2 separate regions of the Homo sapiens genome follow, and region 2 is linked to region 1. Evidence: fine-mapped expression QTL. A gene starts in region 1. The other region holds a variant in brackets. All regions are shown on one strand. Distances are from middle to middle. Region 1 holds the start of DYRK4 (dual specificity tyrosine phosphorylation regulated kinase 4). Region 2 overlaps DYRK4 (dual specificity tyrosine phosphorylation regulated kinase 4).

Region 1 (2,918 bases):
CTAGGCAACCCATTTCACACTCAACTGTTAATTTACATAGGGTTGGTACTTGATATTTCTTGGAAGAATAAACTATATTGAGCAAAATTTCCTCCACTGATCCTTGCTATCCTCTGCAGAGTACCAAGGAACAAATCTATCTCTTTTCTACTCAAGAGTTCTTGAATGTTCAAAAGTTGAGTAGAAAAAAGCTTTCTCTCCCTTGCATCTCCTCATCTCCAGGCATTCTGTGAAGTTTTTTCAAACCTCTCTTCATGTGATGGCACACCCAGGCCTGACAGAGAGAGCCTGCCTTGTGGTTGTTCCTATTTTCCAGTTCTTTGTGATCTCAAAGTAGCTACAGTTTCTAGAGTCTGGATTATGTTCTACTCATTGCTAAGTCAGGCAGCACGACCATATTCTTTGATGTGGTCATTGCATTTCTATGAATGCAGCCTCCACCAGCATTTGCTCTTTGGGGAGCCATCACAACACACTCACGATGGGCTTAGAGTCAGCTAAAACCACTAAATCCCAGCACTGGGTCCTCCACACGCTTGAGGACTATGCATTCTAGCCAAGTTGCAGGCAACAATATGTGGAGTTGGAGAGGGCAAAGTCAGGGAAGAGTGGCTGGCATATTGCTAGAGAGTCCCTTCCGATTTACCTCTGCTTTCTCCATAAGGACCAAAACAAACAAGAGAAACAACAGATTTAAGTAACAGAAACAATAAGGTAGAGTGCATGTTTGAAGAATTTCTTCGAACTCCTAGGTTTTACATACCGACCACATGTAGGTGATCAAATCGCTCAAGCAAGACAAAGGACATTTTCATTTGTTGTTTCCACGGTTTGAACTTTTCCACTAAATGGCCTCCTGCTTTTGCCGAGTCTCCACTTAAGCCTGGACAGTGAAGCTTGAATTAATATTGGTGATGCTGTCCGTTGCTTAAGACATGTCAGAGGGGTCACGGTTTTCCTAAGCTTTGAGGGGCTGCTGGACATTTCAAATGCAGCAAATGTCACAGAATAGCCTTTAAAAACCCTCAAATTGTGCATTGTTCATCTCTTTTTTAAGGAAAGATTTGCTAATATTGGGAATTTCCTGAGTGGCAGCTCTGGGTGTGTGATCTACACACACCTTCGCGCGCTTTTGTGTCAGGGGCTGGGCCCTGGTTGAGCACAGAGGTGCCCGGGCATATGGGCTGGGTGGGAACATGAGTAATGCCTGCCAGAGCCTCATCCACGCGAGGCGTGTGGTCGTGGACCCACTTACGACTACCAAGAGGACATGCAGTAAAGAAGAGAAAGAAAGGGAGGAAGAAAGTCTGGCGTCCCAGTGAGGGCTGGAAGCACAGTTCCAGGATAGGTCTGCTGAGTTCCTCAGAACCCCTCGCTCCCTGTCCTGCACTCAGCTGGAGTCGCCGATGCGACAGCATCTTAACATGGAAGTATACTGACGTCGGATTCCGGGGATGCAGCTGCTGCAAAAACTACAACTGTATTTTCTTGTCCGCGCACCACAGCCCGCCTCTCTCTGACCCACATTCCCCGGTCAGCTCTTGCATTCTGCACGCTTTTCATTCTCCCCCCACGACCCCGTCGACCAGAAGCTTCGTCGCCTGCCTCGTACTCGCGCCTGACTGCTCGTGAAGTACGAGCCTCCGCGGCCCTTACTTTGTTCCGGTGCGGATAGGCGGCGGGAGGAGCTGCATGAGGCCGGCGCTGACCGCCCGCCGCTGCGGGAGGCTGTGAGAGCCCGGCAGAGGGCAAGGGACGGCCACGCCCTCCTCCCGTCGCTATAGAAACGGCTCCCGCCCTTTTTATGACTCCAGAGCTGGAAGGGCTTTCTCAGGCTGTGGTCCCAAACCACCTTGCAGAGTAGCAGCCTGAAGAACATACTCCTCGTCCTCCTACTCGCATTCTCTTGCCCCAGTTCTTTAAAGTATAGGGCAAGAATTGAACAAAATCCCAGCATAAAGAACTTAAAGTTGGTTGCCCAGACCGGACACATGAAATTATCCCTACTCTCTCCCCTTCTTCAAGCGAAGCATGTGGTTATCAGAATTACATCACAGAAGTTCTGGCCGGGCGCGGTGGTTTTACACCTGCAATCCCAGCACTTTGGGAGGCCTAGGCAGACCACTTGAGGTCTGGAGTTCGAGACCAAACTGCTCAAAGTAGTGAGACCCCCCCGCCCCTGTCTCTATTTAGACATTTTTTTCTGTAATCCCAGCACTTTGAGAGGCCAAGGCGGGTGGATCACGAGGCCAAGAGATCAAGACCATCCTGGCCAACATGGTGAAACCCCGTCTCTACTAAAAATACAAAAATAAGCGGGGCGTGGTGGTGCGTGCCTGTAGTCCCAGCTACTTGGGAGGCTGAGGCAGGAGAATCGCTGGAACCCGGGAGGCGGAGGTTGCAGTGAGCCGAGATCGCGCCACTGCACTCCAGCCTGGCGACAGAACGAGACTGCATCTCAAAAAAAAAAAAAAAAAAGAAAAAAAGAAAAAGAAAAAGAAAAAAAGTAAGTACATAGCAAAAGTTCTGGGTAAAATCCATATATCAGCTGAACACTTTTTGAGTGCTTACTCTGCACCAGATTGTAGAAAGCATGAAAAGGGAAATTTGTAATTGAGTGGCAGTAGGTTGACCTGGAGGTGCACAGTCTGGTCCAGGCAGAAAAGACATTCAAATGAAGCTTTCTGAAAGAGCTGAGTTGAATCTGAGTCTTCAAGGACAGGCAGTAGTTGTCTACGTAAAGGAGGCAAGTCCTATTCTGAAGGCCAGAGCCATAGAAAAGCTTGGTACCATTGTGCCAGCACCCAGTTTAGTGGGGCAGGGATCAAAGTTGCACGTGGGCAGAGACAAGGTTGAAGCAGCAGGAAAGGGGGAGTCAGACACCAAGTAGGCTATGAACTCGACCAGGGTAAGGTGTG
Region 2 (2,918 bases), 43 kb before region 1:
AATCATTCATTATCAACCTTAGAAGCCATCTTCTCTGCTCCCCTCATTTTATAGTCCAGAGCTGGGAAATGCCTAGTCAAAAAGACAGAGCCAGGACTAAGACCCCAGGTTTAATGACTCGCAGGCCAGTGTTCATTCCACCACAGCTATTTTTACCTAAGTTATTTTAATATTTTATTATTAGTTTCGATCATGAAATGAAATTATCTATGTTTAGTCATTCTCAAGGCTATATGTGTTTCTCTGTAACTTTGAGACAATCTGGAAAATAGAAATTTGGCAAAGATAGATAGATACAGATACATAGATAGATAGATAGATAGATAGATAGATAGCCAGCCAGCCAGCTAGCTTGGTGTTTGCACACAAAATATCTTTGTTCACTGGGAAAATCCTAAAATGTAAAATTTAAAATTTTTAAAGTTATTTTTCTATTTTGTCTAATTTATTTCCAAAACAAGATGGCTTTCAAGTGAAAGCATAATAGATATAATTAATAATCATATCATGAGTCTTGGTCAAGCCTTGCTATTAGGAGATAGTTTTCCCAGAAAACTGTCATTTCCCATAATGAATGACTAATGCCTGAACAATACACATACTTTGAAGTCAAATAATTTCCAATTCTTTGTTTTCAACATTTTAATCGGGTTGTCAGCTGACAGGCTGGTAAACATAATTTTAGATGACAGATCACCATTTGATTCTTACACAGAACTCAAAAGGAGTCACCGAATTAGACGACATTAATTAGAACAGGCTTCCTCACTGGGTTCACATCTACACCACCAAGCAATTGGAATCACATTGATCCCGAGCCCGGGCATTCTAGCAAGAAGCATTATTCACCTATGGGTATAGGCATTAATTTGGAAAAAAAAAAAAAAAAAAAAAAAAAACCCAGCTCTATTCATTTTTCTAAGAGCTGTATGCCCAATAAGATTTCACATTTTATTTTCAATAATTATCAAAATTTGCACACCAGATATATTTTAATGGTAACTTACCAGAAAGAAATTTTTACACATGAGGCTTACGGTATCAGGAAATTTTTAAAGCTATAATGATTGATAGAAGTTTCTAAACATAAACGTATATTAAATTAGAATAAAATTCCATAGAGGAAGTAGAAAAAAGAGTAGAAACAAAAGGGAAAAAAGAACAAAGTAAAATCATGGCACAACTCTTAAGAACCTGTTCACATACTATCAGATAGATTTTAATGGGTGTCATGTCCGTCTGGTTTTGCATTCTTTTGGATATTTTTGAAAGAGCGGTGTAATTTTATTTTAAAATGTCACTATTTACAATATGATGGAAATGACATCCTCTGCAACTATTTAAATTTATGATAAAACGTTAGATGTCGACTTGACAAGTACAAGGGAGTACACAATTTCAAAACTCCTTTTAGGGAATACTCAACAACAACAACAACAACAAGGTATGCAGGCCATGGTCCTGGGCGAGTCTGGTGCAGCCCCGTGTCTGAGGGCCAAGCCCACGGTCTCCGTGGGAGCCGACCGCCAGCCCTCCGCGTACCTCCATGATGCAGGCCAGCTGCTCCACCTCATTCTCCCCGGGGAACAGGGGGTAGCCCGTGTACAACTCCGCCGTGATGCAGCCCAGGCTCCACATGTCAATGGCCACGTCGTAGGGGTGGCCCAGGATCACTTCTGGGGATCGGTAGAACCGGCTTTGGATGTACGTGTATACTGCGGAGGCAAAGTAAGAGAAACCTCGTGGGACAAACTTCTTACCCTCCAGAACGCTCTCCCCCAGGACA[A/C]CTTCTCAGTTAGACTGCGCCCCCGCTGGCAGTGAAAGGGAAGTGCAGCTGGCCAGCACTTAGAACTCCCATTACACCATCACAGCATCAAATCCGCCAGCAACCTGATTATAAAGGAGGTGTGACTGTCCCTGCTTTATTGATAACGAACTCCAACGTGGGCACTGTCGTAGGAAAGTGAATCTAAGTGAGCCAAGTTTATAACAAACAAACAAAACATAAGACAAATATAAGACTAAGTTTTCAAACTGTCAGATTGATTTGGGGTAGACAGCTTCTGAGTCTTGTGACTTGGCAAGAGAGTTATCAAGTTAGAAAGGGAGCATATCAAGTTAGAAAGGGAGCATGCAAAGTCTGTATTCAATATAGCATGTGCACTTATTGTATAGAAAGAAAATTCTCAACAGGTGAGGATGAACAGACTGAAGTCGAAGAAATGGAACACGGTAGTTATTTCCGCATAACTGGGGTTTCTGGTTACCTGGGGAGGGGCAGGGATTCTGTAACCACTTTTCTGTTGTTTAAATTGGTTATTGTCAGAACATAATTCTGTGATTTAAAACAAAATAGAGATTTAATAAAAATAATGTTTATATCCTGCCTGCTTCCCAAATGTGTTTGTGGTACTTTGCAAAGTACACATGCACAGAGTATTTTAGAACATGGATTTAATGGTATTTACATTATGTTTAGTATGTGCCAGGCACGATTCCAAGTACTTTTATAGATAAGCCCTTTCAACCCTTACATTAATTCTGTGAAGCAAGTAGTATTATTGCCTCCAATTTAAAGAAGAGAAAACTGAGGCATACAGAGGTTAAAATGTCAAGGTTACTCAGCTATAAGTGACAGAGCTGGGATTTGAGAGTAGGCAGTTTAATTCTAGCATCAATATTAGATACTGCCTCACAGTTAAAATAAAGATAAAAAAGATGTCAGAAAATATGCAAAGGGGGAAATGACTGCTAGAAACCAAGGATAAAATAATTACGAATTCAGTTCCGAGCATCTTGGCAGCCAAGATAAATGAAAACTGAAAAGTTACACAGCTTTCAACATCTGAGAAGGGAAAACATACAAGTTCTTTGTGGGAAGCATTACTTTTTAGCTGGAATTTCTTATAGGATTCATA

Evidence for each region. PIP is the estimated chance that this variant, and not a neighbour inherited with it, causes the effect.
Region 2: its variant is fine-mapped to the expression of DYRK4 in cerebellum (GTEx, PIP above 0.99).

What each region holds. Positions count from the first base shown.
Region 1 is chr12:4,561,022-4,563,939 of GRCh38, reverse strand. It overlaps DYRK4 (dual specificity tyrosine phosphorylation regulated kinase 4), which reads right to left and starts at 1,732. Exons shown (of 15, transcript NM_001394779.1): 1 at 1,657-1,732. The coding sequence starts at 1,694. RefSeq lists a silencer at 1,603-1,897.
Region 2 is chr12:4,603,711-4,606,628 of GRCh38, reverse strand. DYRK4 (dual specificity tyrosine phosphorylation regulated kinase 4) reads right to left here. Exons shown (of 15, transcript NM_001394779.1): 11 at 1,543-1,715. Among named protein-coding and RNA genes, the nearest start is that of DYRK4, 43 kb to the right of the region's middle. RefSeq lists an enhancer at 1,469-1,808. The variant A/C (reference allele first, on the strand shown) is at 1,787.